Homo sapiens: one gene and its partners. The protein of the gene in region 1 interacts with the protein of each later gene in a biochemical or structural test. Each region holds a gene or a part of one and is shown in the gene's direction. Other genes may lie near its edges.

Region 1 (4,570 bases):
ATGAAGGAGATTGAGTACATATGTAGGGATGAAGGAATATGAGTCCATATGTAGAAATGAAGGAAATGTAGGGATGAAGGGGGATGGGTATGTAGGGATGAAAGGGGATGTGTACATATGTAGATATGAAGGAAGATGAGTATATGTGCGTATGGGTGAGGGGGGATGGAGTGAATACATAGGGCCTTCTGGGCATCAGTTGATAAGTCCTGACCTAGTGGGATAGGGACTCTCCTAACCTTTCTAATGTCTAACTGAAGGACTTGGTTGCCTGGACAGCCATGACATGGACTGCTTCATAACAAGTTGAGATTTGAACAGGGACTTGTGAGAAGGGTCAATGATGAAAACTAAGAGGATCAACTAGTGCTCTCCTTCTCCCAGTCTTGATCAGTCACTACACTTTGCAGTCCTGGTCCCTAACTCTTGGGGTTCCAGGGTTATTCATTGTCCTTACTCCTGTGGAGTTGAGTTTCTGAGGACGCAAATACTGAATAAGGCACGAGATGACCAGGCCAGAGAAGGGCAAGCCTAATTTCCATTGGCTGAGCCTAGTAAACAAGCCCAGTTCAAGATGGTGCATGTTCTAGCCTTCTATGGCTATGTAAAAAACTATCCCAGACCCAGTGGGGTGTAGCTTGGGTTCCCTGGGAAGCAGACTCTGAGATGGAGAAGAGTGTGCATGGTGTTTATTAAGAACTATACTTAGGATCAAGATTTGGAGAAGAGGAGAAGGGGGCAGGAATGGGTTTAGTGGCAGCCCCAGTTGGCCAACAGGGAGTTCTGGGGCCAGAATGACCCTTGAGAGTTGCCCCAGGTTGGGCTGTGATGACCTAGTCTTTATATCAGGGATCAGCAAGTTATGGCCTATAGGCCAAACCCAGGTTGCCACCTATTTTTTAACTAAAGTTTTATTGGAACACAGCCACACCCATCATGTACATGTCATCTGTGGCTGCTTTCATGATACATTAGCAGAGCTGAGTAGTTGGGACAGACTGCAAGGCTGGCAAAGCCTAAAATATTTAGGATCTGCCCTTGATGGAAGTTTGGCAGGCCCTGTTATGTTCCCTCATTGATCAGTTGCTGAATGGACAGTCTCTGACCTCTGTGGCCTCGGCTGCGCTGGAGGGTCCCCTTCTAAGGTGCCTTCCTTGCTCGAGGCTCCTTGGCCTTGTTCTCCAAGGACATCTCTTCTTCCTGGGTTTCTCCACGTGGCACAGTGGTTTGGCATCGTCGTACTTCTTGCATCTTACCTGAGGGCTTCAGGAGGTGGGACCTGGAGGCCCCCAGTCCATGAAAAGCCACAGCAGGGCTGGCAAAATCACTTGTGCCATTGGTCAAAGTGATCATGGGGCCTGCCCAGATTCAAGAGATGGAGCCACAGATGCCGCCCACTGCCTGAAGGAGGATGGCACAATCACGGTGCAGAAGAGCATGAGGATGAGATGCTGTCAGACCGTCTTCGGAAAAATGTGGAACACCATGGCAGGCCAGGTGGCTGCTCGGCAGTGCCGTGTCAATCCCAGCTCACCCAGGTCACCGCTGCAGTGCCTGTCCCTCCCCAACTCCACCCACGGTCCCTGACATCACGTGGGGAGGGAGTTTGAGATGGCCATGGTGGGAATGTGACACCTCGGGAATGGGCTCTACCCACCCCAACGCCAAAGAACCTGCTGCACACCCCTGCTGCCATGGGAGGACTTCTGGTTTGAAGCCACATGGGAAGAAAGACAGCAGCATTTATTGAGCACTAAGGGTCGCTACATGTCCTGGAACCTCAGGATGACTCCGTAAGCTATGATGTTACCCTTTATTTTATAGAAGGGGAGTCAGAGGCTCAGCAAGGTTGGAGGCCCTGGCAGGATTTGAACCATGGTCCCCTCGTTTTTGCCATCCTGCCTCACAGAAGACGGAGCTGGCAGGAGAAGGAGATCCTGGGTCTGAAGAAAGCTTAGGTTGGCAGGGAGGGAGAGAAAGCTGGCCAGAGAAGAGCGGGCAAAGCCTGAGGCCAGGGCAGCATGGGGTTGCCAGAAGGCTGGACAGTGGAGTCCCTGGAAAGGACTCAGGGCCAGCAGACTGCGCCAGCTGTGTGGGTGCTGGAAGATTCACCCCAACCAGGCAGCCAAACTCCTGACGTTTCTCATTGTCTGAAAAATGCATCTCTGTACTCTAAGACAACACAAGCAGAATGCGAGTGAGGTGGGCTCGGGAGGCCCTGAAGAGGGCCACGGAGAGAAAGCCGGCGGCTGGGCACCACATTCACAGCAGAAGTTTCAGTTCCTTCCCCTCACCTTCTTCCTGGGAAGCACAGTGGTTAGGCTCAACCAATGGACCAGTTTTAGGAGGAGGAGCGGGCAGGAAGGGGCTTTCATATTGGATCCTGTAGGAAGCAGTGGTATGCTACAGGGGTGACAGTGGCCTTCTTTATAACAACACTCGTTCCCGCAAGCTGGACCTTACCCACGTGCCAGCCTTGCCAGTTACACATGTCTATTACCTTTCATCCTCATAACCTTCAAGGGAAGAGGTCTTATGACTCCTCTTTGGGGAAATGAGGCTCAAGAGAAGGGGTAACCTTCCGGGTTTCAGGGTGAGCGCGTGGCAGAAGTTAAGACTTGGACTGGATGCAGGCACTTGACTTCTCCACATCACGTGGCCACGGTGCCTGAGTCAGCCCAGTGGTGCGGGGCGCCCCAGAGAGCACAGAAGCCAGGGCTGGAGACCCAGGTGTGATGGGAGAGCTTTCTTTGGGTGAGGTTGGTTCACAATCTCCCACTTTTTCCCCCCTATAGTTGAAGGATTTTCTCTCCCCGTTGTTTGTTTTAAGAATAAGATGCAAAAGTGAGAAGCGGGAGGCCTTGCCTTGTTCCGTGGGCAGACAGTGTGGGGGCTGTGAGGCCAAGGACACCTGGGAGGGGAGAGGGTGGGGGCAGACTGCATCTCCCAAGAGCAGGGTGGGGAGTGCAGGGAAGGGTCAGGAGGAGAGCAAGGCCACTGCTGAGGCAGGGTCCATGTAGGACACCTTTCGCTTGGACTCCTGGATGTCCTGGCTGGGCCCAGGCCCTGCTGTGTCCCCTGGAGGATAGGGGAGGCCTGTGGACTGCTCACAGGAGGGTGTGGCTACCTCTGCCAGGCCCCTGGGGATAGGAGAGTCACTCCACCATCCCCGTAAACCAGTGGGAGGCCCTGCAGCAGGAGCGTGGAATTAAGACGTGGGAAAATGGTCTCAGTTTTTCAGGTGCTTGTTAAAGATGCTGAGTTTTCTGGTCACCATTCTTGGAAGCCCTCACACAGCAGATTGAAAGTGAGGCTCAGAATCTTCATTTTTAAAGCATCCTCAAATAATTCTGATACCCATGGACTCTAGACCGTGCTAAGGAAAACACTGACCTGGAGGGTGAAGGCATGTGGGATCTGAAACTTTTAAGAAAACAGCTTTTTTGTCATTCTTATCTGATCTTATGAGCACCAATTTTCTTACTCTGAATGGATGTAGATGTGGAAGGTATAATGTTTGGGGAGCGCTCTTGCCCTAAGAGAGATAATGAATACAGCAGTTTGTGCATAATTGCACTTAATTATTATGTTGTGAATATATGGTTAAACTTGATAAAGATTAACTTATAAAAACTCTTATTAAAACTTCCCTGTTATTTGCCATTCATCGCTATCGTGGAGTTTTTAGGGGAGCTTGTTCGTCCATCCACCTGATAAAGTTTTGAATGCATGCTGTGTGCCTGGCTCTGGCGGGGAGTGGGGCATACAGCAGTAGCCAATAGCTGGGGTGGGAGGTTCTGACCACTCCCCTCCACCCACTTACAGTCTGGACAGAGAAATAAACTAAAAAAATCCGCAACCAACAACATACATTTTGCTTTTTTTGTAAATGTATTCTTTTTTTTTGTTTTTTTGAGACAGTCTCGCTCTGTCACCAGGCTGAAGGGCAGTGGCACAATCTTGGCTCACTGCCACCTCCGTCTCCCAGGTTCAAGTGATTCTCCTGCCTCAGTCTCCCGAGTAGCTGAGACTACAGGCACACGTCACCATGCCCAGTTGTTTTTTGTATTTTTAGTAGAGACGGTGTTTCTCCATGTTGGCCAGGATGGTCTCGATCTCTTGACCTTGTGATCCGCCCGCCTCAGCCTCCCAAAGTGCTGGGATTACAGGTGTGAGCCATTGCGCCCAGGCTACTAAATGTGATTTTTATAAATGTGTTAGTATTTACATACAAACCAATACTAGACAAGAGAGGAAAAAACCCTTATCAGACCATATATTGTGAATTTGAGTTTTAAAGAATTAATTAAACATGCAAGTTATGAACTTTTCAGGTACTCTCTAATTGAAATAAGAAGATATACACTATAAATTCTGTACAAAGCTGGCTTGCAGATTTTTTTCTCGTCATTAGAGTTAAGACATCACCTCTAAGTATGTTTAATTAAAATGTTTTCAAGATACACTGATATTTTCTTCACAGCATTTCATCTCTGCCCCTCCTCTCATTTGTGAACACGGAACCTTAGGAAAATGGTTCCCAAGTGCTTTCAAGCACAAATGTGTCTGA
Region 2 (4,570 bases), on another chromosome or scaffold:
TCAGCCTCCCAAGTAGCTGGGACCGCAGGTGCATGTCACCACACCTGGCTAATTTTTTGTATTTTTAGTAGAGACAGGGTCTCACCATGTTGCCCAGTCTGGTCTCAAATTCCTGAGCTCCAGCAATCTGCCCGCCTTGGCCTCCCAAAATGGTGGTTTTACAGGTGTGAGCCACCATGCCCAGTCTCACTTCCTCAAACTTTACAGTAAAGTTGATTAGTCCATTGAACTTAAAGATTTAGTAACTATTTACTAATGTTAAATTCAAAAGGGTGCTAAGTGTTTTATTCTTATCTCCTGTCATACTGGATTTCAGATATCTTTTTTAACCTCAAGTTGTCTGGAAATAAACTGAGATTTGAATGATAGGATCTGATGTAAGGATCTCATTATAAGCTGAATAAACATGACATACTCCCTGTGTACTATGTCTGGGAATATTCTTTGACACTACAGTCTTAAAAATTATAATTTGTAACTTTCATTAAAGATCTACCTTAGATATGACAGAGATAAATGTAGTAATTTAATGGAATCACAAAACACTTCATTAAAAAAAATCTTTGTTGGCCAGGCGCAGTGGCTCAAGCTTGTAATCACAGCACTTTGGGAGGCCGAGGTGGGCGGATCACCTGAGGTCAGGAGTTCGAGACCAGCCTGGCCAACATGGTGAAACCCTGTCTCTACTAAAAATATAAAAATTAGCTGAGCATGGTGGCAGGCGCCTGTAATCCCAGCTACTCAGGAGGCTGAGGCAGGAGAATCACTTGAACCTGGGAGGCGGAGGCTGCAGTGAGCCAAGATCACATCACTATACTCCAGCCTGGGTGACGGAGTGAGACTCTGTCTCAAAAAAAAAAAATCTGTGTCATCCACTTTTCTGTAAGTCCTGGAAATATATGGACAAAAAGGCATGGTCTCTGCCCTTAGTGAGCTTACAGTGCAGTAGAGGGACAGTCACCCAACAGTTTGACCAGGTACCTTGAGAACAGAGGAAAGATTACCTAAATTTATGTTGGCAAGGTACTCAGACTTCATAGTGCTTACACTGAGTCTTTGAAGGAACAGGCATTTGTAAGGCAACAGAAGGACAAAGGAGGCTGGCTCGGTAGGGACCAGATCTAGAACAGGACTTCTGTGACTTACTAAGCACTTCGAGTTTAATTTCAGGAATGAGTAGGAATGCTGAAAGAATTTTGAAAAGGAGGGTAAAATAGATTTATATTTTTGGATAATTACTTTGTATTATTGGGGATAATGGTAGCATCATAGAGACTGGATTGGAAGATAATGAAGAACCAGTTAAAGAGGTATAATGCAGTAGTCCAGGGGAAAGATGATGAAGACATGAACTAAGGCAGCAATAGCAGAAATAACATGAGACGGAGAAAGGAAACAGCAGATTCTGCATCAGCACTTGGCAGTTTAGAAGGACATGTCATTGTCATCTGGTATGTGAGGATTCCCCTCCAATAAGTGTTACAAAGCTTGCTGGTTAGGAAGCCATCTTTAGCAGAGAATATTACCTATATAGGGTTACTTATTTTTCCCTGGGCACCTGTGAATGTGTAGTGCTTGATATTTGTAATTTAAAAAAAATTCTATAGAATATAAAATATAAAATCAAATCTGGATTTTATTTATAAAGAAGGTTTGCAAGTTGAACCTTGCGTCAAGATTTCCCATTGTTTCTGCAAAACTTATCGTTGGGTTTCGTTTTCCAGATTCTCCGGGCCCAAAGCCGAAGTGCAAGTGGAAGGAAGATCTCTGAAAACAGCTATTCTCTAGATGACCTGGAAATAGGCCCAGGTAAGCAGAGAGTTCCATGTGTATGAGGTCCTTTAGGAAGTACTCACTAGTAGTAACATCTTTTGGACTCGAAGCCAATGCTTTTAAAGGAAGAGTGGCACAAATTAAAAGGAAGTCTGCCTATTAGATGCAAGCCATTCTCAAATCTCATTGCTCTCGATAAATAGCTTTTTTTTTTTTTTTTTTTTTGAGACGGAAGTTGACGTGCTCCCAAAGTGCTGGGATTACAGGCATGAGCCGTCATGCCCGGCTGCTTTTTTCATATTTTTAATCCACCCTTGTTAGTGGTAACCTATGGTAAGCAAAGGGTACTTTGAGGAGCTATAAGTAAAGTGCTACGATCAGTTTTGCCTCCAGTCATCTGGGGTTTGAGGGCTTCAGTAGATGGGCTGTGTCCCCTATCAGGTTTGGTTACCCTGTATTACCAGTGATAACATAACACTTTGAGAGTGGAATTATGTTTTAAAGGGGACATATACAGGCACTTCACAAAAGAAAAAATTAGTAAAAACAGGAAAACATCAGCTACCTAGTCATCAAAGAAATGTAAATTAAAAAGCATTGAGATCTCTTCTTTTTCATGTTAAATTAGCCAGAATTTTAAAATACGAGCCCAGGCATGGTGGCTCAGACCTATAATCTCAGCACTTAGGGAGGCTGAGACAGGAGGACCACTTAAATCCAGGAGTTTGAGACCAGCCTGGGCAACATAGACCTATCTCTACAGAAAAAAAAAAAAAAAGCCCAGCGTGGTGGTGCATCCTTGAAGTCACTGCTACTTGGGAAACTGAGGTGGTTGGATCATTTGAGCCCAAGACTTCAAAGCTGCAGTGAGCTATGATTGTACCACTGCCCCATACTCTAGCCTGGGTGACAGAGTGAGACCCTGTCTCAAAAAATAAAATATGCAATCCTCAATTATGGTAAGGTTCTTTTAATGCTAAGAAAGTGAGTGAATATTACTTTATAAATGACAATTATATTCCTGATTTTCTTCTTCGTGCTTTTAACAGAAGATATTGGCCATTAGATAAAAATAACCCAAAATTTAGAATTTTGAAATTATTTGAATCACTTTTATCTTCTAATAAAACATGTTGGCCAGTCACGGTGGTTTACACCTATAATTCCAGCGCTTTGGGAGGCTGAGGCGGGAGGATATCTTGAGCTCAGGAGTTCGAGGCTGTAGTGAGCTATGATCGTGCCACTGCACTTCAGCCTGGGTGATAGAGTGAGACCCCATCTCAGAAATAAAATAAAACATGTTATTTGGATGCTTCCAGGTCAGTTGTCATCTTCTACATTTGACTCGGAGAAAAATGAGAGTAGACGAAATCTGGAACTTCCACGCCTCTCAGAAACCTCTATAAAGGATCGAATGGCCAAGTACCAGGCAGCTGTGTCCAAACAAAGCAGCTCAACCAACTATACAGTATGTGTTCTGCATCATTCATTCATTCATTCATTCCATCATCCAGCAGATGGTCACTGAGTACTGGAATTAGGAAATGTCACCAGACCCTTGTATCTGAGCCCTGGTCCCCTAGCTGTTCTCTTTTCACATGAACCCTACCCTCGCTGGATTTGCAGTTCTTACCATGGTCTAATCCTGACTTTGCTTTCTTAGTCCTGGTTCCCACCCCACTCACTTTTTTTGTGATGTTACCAGTGAGTATCATTGAGAGTTTCCCTGGCTCTTCTACTTAATCTTTGTGTTGTTAAAGAAGTAGTATTTTATTAGTTTTAATATAACTCTTATTTTATCTTGGTTGTTGAGGGAAGAAGGAAGAAGACTGAAGAGCTTATTTTGGCTTTTGAGGGAAGAAAGAAGAAGACTGGAGAGAAATATCAGCTGTGTTCATTAACGAGGGTTTTTTTTGTGATTTTTTACTGAGATATAACTCACATAATATAAAATCACCATTTTAAAGTATACAATCTTGTGATACTTAGCATATTCACAAGGTTGTACAACCATTACCACTGTTTAATTCCAGAACCTTTCCATCACCCTGAAAAGAAACTTCATACCTGTGTAGTCACTCCCAACTTCCCCTGCTCTCATCCCCTGGCAACCACTTAGCTACTTCCTGTCTTTATGTATCTGCCTATTTTGGAAATTTCATATGAAGGAGTCATACAGTAGATCTTCTACTTAATCTTTAATCCTTACGATGTACTGTTTTCCTAAAGAAGTAGAATAGTAGATAAGGAAAAGGGAGAGATCACAAGAAGGTGACGTGCTCAGTAAGCATGAAAATTTTGATATTCAGCTGGGTGTGATGGCTCACACCTGTAATCCCAGCACTTTGGGAGGCCGAGGTGGGCAGATTGCCTGAGGTCAGGAGTTCAAGACCAGCTTGGCTAACGTGGTGAAACCCCATCTCTACTAAAAATACAAAAATTAGCCAGCATGGTGGCAGGCACCTGTAATCCCAGCTACTTGGGAGGCTGAGGCAGGAGAATCGCTGGAACCCAGGAGGCAGAGGTTGCAGTGAGGCAAGATTGCGCCACTACACTCCAGCCTGGGCGACACAGCAAGACTCCGTCTCCAGGAAAAAAAAAAAAGATTGGTATTCAAAATACAATGGAGGGTCCTTCCCCTTTACGTTGTCCTGTGCTTAACGGGTAAGCTGATGCTACAGAACTGCTAAATTGAAGTTACCTTATAGCCAGGCGCAGGAGCTCACACCGTAATCCCAACACTTTGGGAGCCTGAGGTGGGTGGGTCATTTGAAGTCAGGAGTTCAGAACCAGCCTG
Region 3 (4,570 bases), on another chromosome or scaffold:
ACTTAAAGACATTTCAGAGCCTGATTTTTACTGAATTATGAGATCATTTTCTGAGAAAAAAGGAGCATTACCCTTCAAGACGTTTGAAAATTAGCCTAAGCCTATAGTGTGCAACAGGGAATTCGCTATGTTGAGATGGACTAGATGACCTAATAGGGCTTTCTTTTTTTTTTTCTCTAAATTTCTAGGAGTCTCATGATTTGAATATTGATGAACTCTTTGACTTGAACATTTTGTTTCTTCTAATTGTTCATCTTTTCCTGATAATTATAAGGTACACCAGGAGGATGGAATCAACTATACCCTTTATAAAAGGTGGATTTTTGAAACCGTAGACCTTATTTTGTTATACTCAAACATGATCCTAGACTTTTCTCTCCTGCCATATCCCTCCTCCTTTAAAACAGCCCATGAAAAGTTAATTTTTAAAGATTCTTTTAATTCTGTTCAGCTGGCTTCTTTGTTCCTAGTAGACAAAAATTGGAGCTCTCCAAGGAGAATTCAGGATGTAGAGGCGGGTGGCGTGAGGACTAGCTTAGCAGTGGCTCAGACAGCTGCCGTCAAATGCTTTGGGTTTGGAAATGTATAGGTTCTTAATAAATATTACTTAATCCTGACAGCAGGACCAGGAATTTAACATGAACAATTAAGAATAAAGGATTCAATTCTTCGTGGCTTACAGGTCTTAATATCCCAAATAGACCTGTTCTTCCCTGGTTCTATACGCGTTCTTAGTGAGTGAAGAGGAGATGGAAAAAGATTACAGTATCAATGCTCTGCAATAGTTTGTGAATAGTTAAATAGAAGCATAGACCTACAAACTGGTTCAAACAAAAGATACAGTCCTTTGTAATTTTCTCATGTTAATTCAGGCATCCAGGTAGACTGTTAGAAAAAACTAACTTTAATTTGTTGGACATACTTTTTCATTCAAATCTGGACCTTTGAACATGACAAGAGTGTGTTCTGGGTCTAGAACGTTTGCGTTTATCTTCCGTTTAGATGTCTGATATGCCAAAGCCTGCCTTCATGAAGCAGAACCTGGATGAGCTTGGAATAGGAACGTACCACAACATTGCCTTCATACATCCAGACACTCCCATCATCAAAGCCTTGAACATATTTGTGGAAAGACGAATATCAGCTCTGCCTGTTGTGGATGAGTCAGGTTTGTGTGTTTGGCGCTGACAGGCAGAAATAATTGTTTATCTCAGGGTGCAATTATTGTAAGATGACCTGGCACAGGAGATACGTGGGGAAAATGAAAACTTGGGTATGGTGAATAAATTCAGCACCAAGGGGCACGCAGGATCGTAAAAAAAGTTTAATTGGTTTATTTTCATATGTCCATTAAAATATGATTTCATATCTAAGTTTTCATTTAAAATAGACAAGGTTATTTATCAGTGTTTAACTTTTAGTAATTATGTCATTAAAACTGATTTTAAATGAATTTCTTTTTGTCCCTTAAGACATTTTTCTAACATATATTTTTCATTTTTAGGAAAAGTTGTAGATATTTATTCCAAATTTGATGTAATTGTAAGTATTTTAATTTTGTTCAATCTGTCACCTAGAATGCATTTTAAACATTCATGTAATGTGTTTTTATGTTTTTATCTTGTTTCTTAATTTAATAATTTCTAACCTTTTGGGGTGTGAGGATATTATCAGAATTTTATAGACCTTCTATAGTAATTGTACTTTTAATCTGCATTGGTTTAGCAACCAATTATATATTAGTAGCATTTTATAATTTTTCATCTTTACAATACATGCATATTTTATGCACTGCCACAGCATGTGTATATATTTTAAATGTTCTTGTTTCCACGTAGGAGGCCTGATTTATTCGCCTCTAGACGCGTGCGCAGTGCACACGTGGACTCATGGCTCCTTTGTCGGGCGCATCCCATTGCTTAGTGATTGGGAGCCACTGTTCTAAAGAAGAAAAGGGGACTGACACTTTATAGCCCCAAATGTGCACGCCATTTTTTGCCACAATACTGACCCCACATTAAACATTCTTCTGCAGCTGCCTCAAACCCTTTGCTTCACACTATTATGTTAAACATAACAGTCACCGAGAAATATGCTGATCGGCATTTTGGTTGAGTGGGACCCGCTAAAATGAATGAGAGCCCCATGAAGCCATTTGGATCCATGGGGCTCCTCAAGCCTGTTCTTCCTCTGGTTGCTTGATCCCCATGGGTCCCCCAAAGCCTTCCCAGCAGAAACCTTGTTCCCCAGGGAGCTTGTTGAGAAGGTCCGTTGCTGCAGCATTTCTAGCCCTGTGGCACTCACCACCCTTTACAGATGTCAGCCCACCTTGCCAGAGATTTCATCCATGCATGGTAGAGAGCATTAGAGGGTAAAAATTGGGGGGCAGTCTTTGGCAGGATATACTGTCAAAGTTTAACAATGTTGCTTCGTAAGGAAGGTAGACCTTGTAACATGGTTATCTTTAATTGTGATTGATATGTTGACAAAATAACAGTAGCAATGGCATGTCGTAAGCCAGAAAGAACGTCTGATGTATGCAGGTACTAAATTCAGATAAGCATTAAAGTTTTTAGAAATCAGGCTCTCTTAAGCTCACTAATTTTGGTCATTGAAGTGAACTGAAATGAAAGGATATAATTTATTCTCTTGCTTCATTACAGAATCTTGCTGCTGAGAAAACATACAATAACCTAGATATCACGGTGACCCAGGCCCTTCAGCACCGTTCACAGTATTTTGAAGGTGTTGTGAAGTGCAATAAGCTGGAAATACTGGAGACCATCGTGGACAGAATAGTAAGAGCTGAGGTGAGACGGCTTTCCCAGTCCTGCTCCCCCGACGTCCACTGCAACAAGTCCCCAGTAGTGAATGATGCCTCTGGAAGCCTGAATCTCAGGAAGGGCCCAGCGAGGCAGCCTCCAGGTTCAGTCGATGGGATTCCCTCCTGTCCCAGAACCTGGCACACTACTTGGCATATAGGCGATCTCTAAAAGTTTGTTGAATTGAATTGAATGGAAAAGTCCTGGTATCATAGGTGAATCCAATAAACTGGTAAGATACATTCATAGTTTAAACTATATATGTTTGACAGTGTGGACGACATAATAAGACCTTGTCTCTACTAAAAATAAAAATAAATTAGCTGGGCATGGTGGCTTGGACCTGTAGTCATAGCTAATAGGGAAGCTGAGGAAGGAGGATCCCTTGAATCCAAGAGCTTGATATTTCAGTGAGCTGTGGCGGTGCCACTGCACTCCAGTCTCGACAGCAGAGCAAGACCCTGTCTCTAAATAGATCGATGTATCTGTATCTATGGATACATTTTGTTTTGAGAAAACAAAAATCCCAGAAGCTTTAAGTTCCATTTGAATATTTATGAATTCAAAATTTAAAGTGCGTAATATATATTTTAACAAAGTGAATGATAAGTCAGTAAAACTTTTTTCTCTCTTCCCACCAGTATCTCTCTTTCCTCAATTAGATAAATAGCAAATAATCTAGTAACTCCCAGTTTCCTGCACCTCAGCAGTCCAATTTCCTTAGACTTTACTGCTTATAAGATTTTCAAATGTACTTTGTGTAACACCCTAAATAAAAGACTCCGCCTAAAAAGAAAATTCCTTCACAAGATGACTCCTCACAGAAGGACCAAAAAAATAACAGTTTTTAGCTTTAATGTAGCTAGGAGAAGGGTGTACAGTATCAGTGATGATTCCATTTGTTTATATGACATAAATAGAACACTAACTTTTAGGTACCTCCAACAAAGGACATACATAAGTTTGACTCAGCAGCAGATGACAAGAAAATACGTGGGGAGTCATTTCAGTCTGAGAGAACTGCTTAATTCTCTGGATGAGATGGTTTCCCTTAGCCTTCAGAGTTCAAAAGATATCTGTTTAATATCCACTATTTTTTTTTTTTTTTTTTGAGACGGAGTCTTGCTCTGTCGCCGAGGCTGGAGTGCAGTGGCGTGATCTCGGCTCACTGCAAGCTCCGCCTCCCAGGTTCAAGCGATTCTCCTGCCTCAGCCTCCCGAGTAGCTGGGACTACAGGCGCCCGCCTAATTTTTTGTATTTTTAGTAGAGACGGGGTTTCACCTTGTCAGCCAGGATGGTCTCGATCTCCTGACCTCGTGATCTGCCCGCCTCGGCCTCCCAAAGTGCTGGGATTACAGGCATGAGCCACCGCACCCGGCTAATATCCACTATTGAATGTAACCAATAAAATGTCTTCAGTGTAGAAGACAAATGTGAACTATCATTTTAATGTGTGATTATAGTTAGCAAATAATTGTGCTGTGTTATATCACAGGATTACTGATGAACCTGAAAGCTTTTTTAGAGAAACATTTAAAAGAAATTTATGTTGACTGCCACGGGAAAGATGACCAAGCCATTATTATTATTATTATTATTAACCTAAAGCAACCTATGACAGAAACATCACCCAAACAGTATTATTTGAGACAAAATACAAAAACTGGATTTCCCCCTCTTCCTATCTCCTTCCTATGTCCCTGTTTTCTATCAGGGGTATCACTGTTCAATACAGAGAGGGTCTCCCA
Region 4 (5,164 bases), on another chromosome or scaffold:
CGCTTGAACCTGGGAGGTGGAGCTTGCAGTGAGCAGAGATCGTGCCACCGCCCTCCAGCCTGGGTGACAGAGCGAGACTCTGTCTTAAAAAAAAAATCTTTTACCTTTTACAATTACTGGTTCGATACTGTGCTTAAATATTCTGAACCAGTAGGGCCTCCAGCCTCTGCTGATGGCGCTGTGTGTGGGTTGTGGCTGCATTTGGAATTCAGGTAGTTTTTACAATTTGGACTTGGCTTTTACTTTTTGCTTGTACAAAGCCTCACGTTCAGCCAGGGCGGTGGACAGCTGGGGCCCTCGCCTGTCTTTCCTTAGTGTGCACCCAACCTTGCAGTCCACCAGGGACATCTGGCCACCTCTGAAGACCACCAAGGCTGTTCTATCTGTGAATGCAGAAAATCTGAGACAGGTCTCAGTTAATTTAGAAGGTTTATTTTGCCAAGGTTGAGGACATGCCCATGGCACAGCCTCAGGAGGTCCTGACAACATGTGCCTGAGGTGGTTGGGGCACAGCTTGGTTTTATACATTTTAGGGAGACATGAGACATCAATCAATATATGTAAGATGAACATAGCGGCTAGCTGCGGTGGCTCACGCCTGTAATCCCAGCACTTTGGGAGGCCAGCGGATCACCTGATGTCAGGAGTTCGAGACCAGCCTGGCCAACATGGTGAAACCCCCATCTCTACTAAAAATACTAAAATTAGCTGGGTGTGTTGGTGGGTGCCTGTAATCCCAGTTATTTGGGAAGCTGAGGGAGGAGAATCGCTTGAACCTGGGAGATGGAGGTTGCAGTGAGCCGAGATCACGCCACCGCACTCCAGCCTGGGTCAGAAAGCGACTCCGTCTCAAAAAAAAAAATTGGTTCAGTCTGGAAAGGCGGGACAATTTAAAGCAAAAGCCATCGGGGAGGGAGCTTCCTGGTCACAGATAGGTGATACACAAACGGTTACATTGTTTTGAGTTTCTGATTAGCCTTTTTTTTTTTTCTTTTCCTTTTTGATCAGTCTTGCTCTGTCGCCAGGCTGGAGTACAATGGCTTGATCTCGGCTCACTGCAACCTCCGCCTCCCAGGTTCAAGCGATTCTCCTGCCTCAGCCTCCCGAGTAGCTGGGACTACAGGGGCGCACCACCACACCTGGCTAATTTTGTATTTTCAGTAGAGACAGGGTTTCACCGTGTTGGCCAGGCTGGTCTCGAACTCCTGGTCTCAATGTGCGCCACCGCGCCCAGCCTTCTGATGAGCCTTTTCAAAGGAGTCAGTCAGATATCCATCTATCTCAGCGAGCAGAGGGTGACTCTGAATAGAGCGGGAGGCAGGTTTGCCCTGAGCAGCTTCCAGCCTGAGTTTTCCTTAGTGATTCCGGGGGCCCAAGAGATTTCACATGTTTTAGGTACTGAATGTCCTGGTTCAACTTCGGGCTTCGCTCTCAGATATGGAAAGCTCTGACAAAGCTGCTTTTTACATCTGTTGGGTCTCAAATGCCTTCAGTTTAAAATAACCTTCACATCCACTCTGGGGTTCCCAGTGGGTCCCCACAGCTCGAAATAACCCAAGGAGGGTCCACGGCGGGTAGGAAAGTCGATCGAAGGCTGGCGGCTGCGGAAACCCAGGGCGGGCAAGGAAGGTCCCTGGAGGGTGATTTTCCGCAACGCAGCGGCGGAAAGTGAGTGGCTTTCAGAGGCGGCAGGTGAGTGGGTTCGAGGCAGGGCTCTGGGGCCGCTTTAGGATATAACGGGATGAAGCCCCCAATGCGAACTTGGGGGCTGGGCAGCGCAGGGCCTCAGCGCCCACGGTCTACCCGCGGCCCGGGCCTTATGTGCGCCTCAGCGAGGCCCAATTTCCACATGCCTCGTTTCCAGCGAGCTGTCGGTGAGTCCCGGCGAGCCCCGACCCCTCTCTAGCCACGGCCTGACGGGTACGGTGGTGACCTCAGCCTCTGACCTCCGACCCCGCGCCGCGACCTCTCGTCGCCGGTCCCCTCGGAGCCGGGCGCGGTTTCCGGGGAACGCGTTTCCCGCCGCACCGTGGGCCGCCCGGACCGCGCAGGACCGGGCACCTTCCGGTGGCGGCGCGGAGCCTTGGGCCCGGCTGCGGCCCGGCGGCGGCCCCGGCGCGGTGCGGGCGTTCGCGGCGCCCCGGGAGCTGCAGGGGCCCCGGGCGGCGGCGAGGCCGGAGAGGGGCGGGCCCGGGACACCGGCACCCGGCGCCCTCGGAGCCAAAGGCGCGCGGCGGACACGGCGGGGCCCTCGCGCGGTGAGGACGCGGAGGCGTGTGGGCTCCTGTCACTTCACACAGCAAACGCTGCCCGCCGCGTGGCTCCGGAGGAGTCTCGCGAGGGGCGCCCCTGTGGCGTTTCGGGCCAGCCGGGCCGCCTGGCCGGGTGCGGAGAAGGAAGCTCTGCCCTTCCCCTGGCCCGGCGCGGAGCCGATTCTCCCGGGAAGGGGCCGGGGGTCCTAACTTCACCGCCGGGCGGCCTGCTCAGGGCCAGGCCCGCGGGGACGCTGGCGTCAAGGTTTCTTCCCCCTTCACGCCAGTCCCCTACCAGGCCGACATCGAGTCCCGCTCCCCAGGGAGGGTCAAGTCCCAGGGGTCCAGCGGCTCCCCCGAGGTCCGCTAGGAGGTGGCGGCACTGGAGTGGCCGTTCTCCAGCCTGCACCGACCCCCGCCTTTAGTGCCCCCGCGTGTGACCCAACGGTGGTACTGGAGCGGCCTTAGAAGGGTGACCGCTGCCTCTGAGTTGAGTCTTAAGCCCCTCGTTGGGCCTGGCTGAACCCCGGGTCTGCGCCTTTCCCCCAGCCTGGAGACGATGCCAAAGCTGCAGGGCTTCGAGTTCTGGAGCCGCACCCTGCGAGGGGCCCGCCACGTCGTGGCCCCCATGGTGGACCAGAGCGAGCTGGCCTGGAGGCTGCTGAGCCGGCGCCACGGGGCACAGCTCTGCTACACGCCCATGCTGCATGCCCAGGTCTTTGTCCGCGACGCCAACTACCGGAAGGAGAACCTGTACTGCGAGGTGTGCCCCGAGGACCGGCCCCTCATCGTGCAGGTGCGCAGGAGGGGCTGTGGCCGCGGCCGCGGTTGGGTTCCCGGTCCTGGAATGCCTGGGGAAAAACCCTTCTCTCTGTGGCGGGACATCACTTTCAGCCTTTCCAGAGACAGCTCAATTCCAGGAGGAGAGGGAGAAGGTGGCACCAGGCATGTAGAGTCCACGTAGCCACAGCAGTGATTCCTGTGGTGGAGCCAGGGCTGCCAGGTGCACCTGCCAGAATCCAACCCCATTCTCTAGGAGTGGCTCAGGCAGCCTGGGTGCTGTGAGGTTTGCAGCCCTGCTGGGGCCTCTGGATTGCTGCCTCTCACACTCACACTCCCTCTTCAGAACCAGTGGAGATGGCTCTGCTCTTCAGAAGTCAGTGATTGTGGCTTCTGCCACAGTTCAGAAGAAAATCTGTAAATCCGGGTGGCTTGGGGACTCCTCCCGGCTTTGTCATATTGTAAGCCTCCGCAGGACAGAGCACCCTCCTGCAGTGAACCTGGGCCCACACCCTCATGGGGTCACACTGGACCTCTCGTAGGGCTGGGCAGCAAGGGACTAGGGCCTGGCTGGGCCCGTGGCTGACTCCTGCATCTTCTCCAGTTCTGTGCCAATGACCCGGAGGTGTTTGTTCAGGCGGCTCTCCTGGCTCAGGATTACTGTGACGCCATTGACCTGAACTTGGGCTGCCCACAGATGATAGCCAAGAGAGGTGAGCTCCATGTGGAGCATGGGGGCACCTGGGGCAGGGGCCAGAGCCAGCTCAGTGCAGCCCCAGGTGTGGTGAGCTTGGAGGACGGCAGGCCCTGCCTCTGTCGTGACAGTGGCTCAGGCTGGAGCCAGCTGTCCTCTGTGCTCCGCCTCTGGAGGGTGGCTGTCCTCAGGCCTTGGGGGCTAGGGGCCGAGCCCTACTGGCTCTCTCTTCCCTCAGGGAGCTCCCTCTGCATAAACATGATTGCTGATACAGGGTCCCCATTACCCCCTTGCACTGCTGTGTGTGGGGCTGAGCCTGCTACCTCACCGGGCCCCTGAGGAGGTGTTACTTGGTTCCAGACCGTGCAGGGTGGGGGTTCCATTCAGCACCTTCTGAGCTTAGGCAGCTGGGCAAATAGAGCCCCTGAGTCTGATGCCGACAAACCACTGCTCTGACTGTCCCACTGCCCCAACTGGAGACACTGCTGGTTCTGGGGACCTGTGTCCCGCCTGACAGGGCAGCTCCTGGCCTGCGTGGATGCAGGAAAGGGTGCAGAGGGGGTGCAAGGCTTCGGCCCCACCAGCCTTAACACAGGTGCCAGCCAGGCCATGCTTGCTCCTTGCAGGTCACTATGGCGCCTTTCTGCAGGACGAGTGGGACCTGCTCCAAAGAATGAGTGAGTTGGCTGGGTGGATGGTGAAGGACCCCCAGAGACCCTCAAGAGGGACACATGGGCACTGTCCACTTGGTTGGGGCTCAGGAGAGGACAGGCGTTGGCAGGAGTTCTCAGCATCACCCTGGGGCTTCCTGCCCACAGCAGCCTCTCTGCTGGAAGGAGGTGGCTGTGAAGTTGCCTGTCCTGCACCACCCACCCCTTAAAACCAGACAGTAGGTGCCAGGGCAGAGTCCTTGCTCGGGCCCAGCCCCAGATGTCCTGGGAGACAGAGCCGGCCTTGGCCCTGCTTGTTTGAACTTCGGAGGGCCGGGGGTATGGCGGAGGGAGCCTGCCCAGCAACCTGAGGGAGACACCCAGATGGTGGCCCGGGCTGCCTCCCAGCCTCCCGGCAAAGCTGCCTGGGCTCCGCTGTCTGCAGGGCCCTGGGCTCTGGGGCTTGGCCGCTAAAGTGGGAACACCATGGCCCCCTCAGAAGCTGCCTCTCTTCTCCCCAGTTTTGCTGGCCCACGAGAAACTCTCTGTTCCTGTCACGTGCAAAATCCGTGTCTTCCCGGAGATTGACAAGACCGTGAGGTACGCCCAGATGCTGGAGAAGGCCGGCTGCCAGGTGAGCCCTGGGCTCGCGGGGGTGTCATGGGCCTCAGCTGGGCCTTTGCGCAGAGGACATAGCTGAGGCTCTTCCTGTGTCCAGACACCGTGCACCGTCGGCCTCATGGGGGCAGTGGCCCTCCTGACTGGCCTGTCCCCACTGGCTCTGAGTG

What was found.
Region 2: the proteins of DAPK1 (region 1) and LIMA1 form a complex in vitro, tested with the Homo sapiens proteins (one large-scale study listed by BioGRID and IntAct).
Region 3: the proteins of DAPK1 (region 1) and PRKAG2 form a complex in vitro, tested with the Homo sapiens proteins (one large-scale study listed by BioGRID and IntAct).
Region 4: the proteins of DAPK1 (region 1) and DUS1L form a complex in vitro, tested with the Homo sapiens proteins (one large-scale study listed by BioGRID and IntAct).

What each region holds. Positions count from the first base shown.
Region 1 is NC_000009.12:87,633,201-87,637,770, forward strand, and holds part of DAPK1 (death-associated protein kinase 1), read left to right. Parts: intron 1-4,570. UniProt on the Homo sapiens protein: Calcium/calmodulin-dependent serine/threonine kinase involved in multiple cellular signaling pathways that trigger cell survival, apoptosis, and autophagy.
Region 2 is NC_000012.12:50,203,223-50,207,792, reverse strand, and holds part of LIMA1 (LIM domain and actin-binding protein 1), read left to right. Parts: intron 1-1,724; coding exon 1,725-1,809; intron 1,810-3,092; coding exon 3,093-3,241; intron 3,242-4,570. UniProt on the Homo sapiens protein: Actin-binding protein involved in actin cytoskeleton regulation and dynamics. Increases the number and size of actin stress fibers and inhibits membrane ruffling. Inhibits actin filament depolymerization.
Region 3 is NC_000007.14:151,562,318-151,566,887, reverse strand, and holds part of PRKAG2 (5'-AMP-activated protein kinase subunit gamma-2), read left to right. Parts: intron 1-1,002; coding exon 1,003-1,168; intron 1,169-1,504; coding exon 1,505-1,542; intron 1,543-2,663; coding exon 2,664-2,810; intron 2,811-4,570. UniProt on the Homo sapiens protein: AMP/ATP-binding subunit of AMP-activated protein kinase (AMPK), an energy sensor protein kinase that plays a key role in regulating cellular energy metabolism.
Region 4 is NC_000017.11:82,062,707-82,067,870, reverse strand, and holds the start of DUS1L (tRNA-dihydrouridine(16/17) synthase [NAD(P)(+)]-like), read left to right. Parts: upstream 1-2,066; 5' UTR 2,067-2,258; intron 2,259-2,356; exon of another isoform or gene 2,357-2,517; intron 2,518-2,801; 5' UTR 2,802-2,811; coding exon 2,812-3,048; intron 3,049-3,636; coding exon 3,637-3,745; intron 3,746-4,352; coding exon 4,353-4,403; intron 4,404-4,897; coding exon 4,898-5,010; intron 5,011-5,164.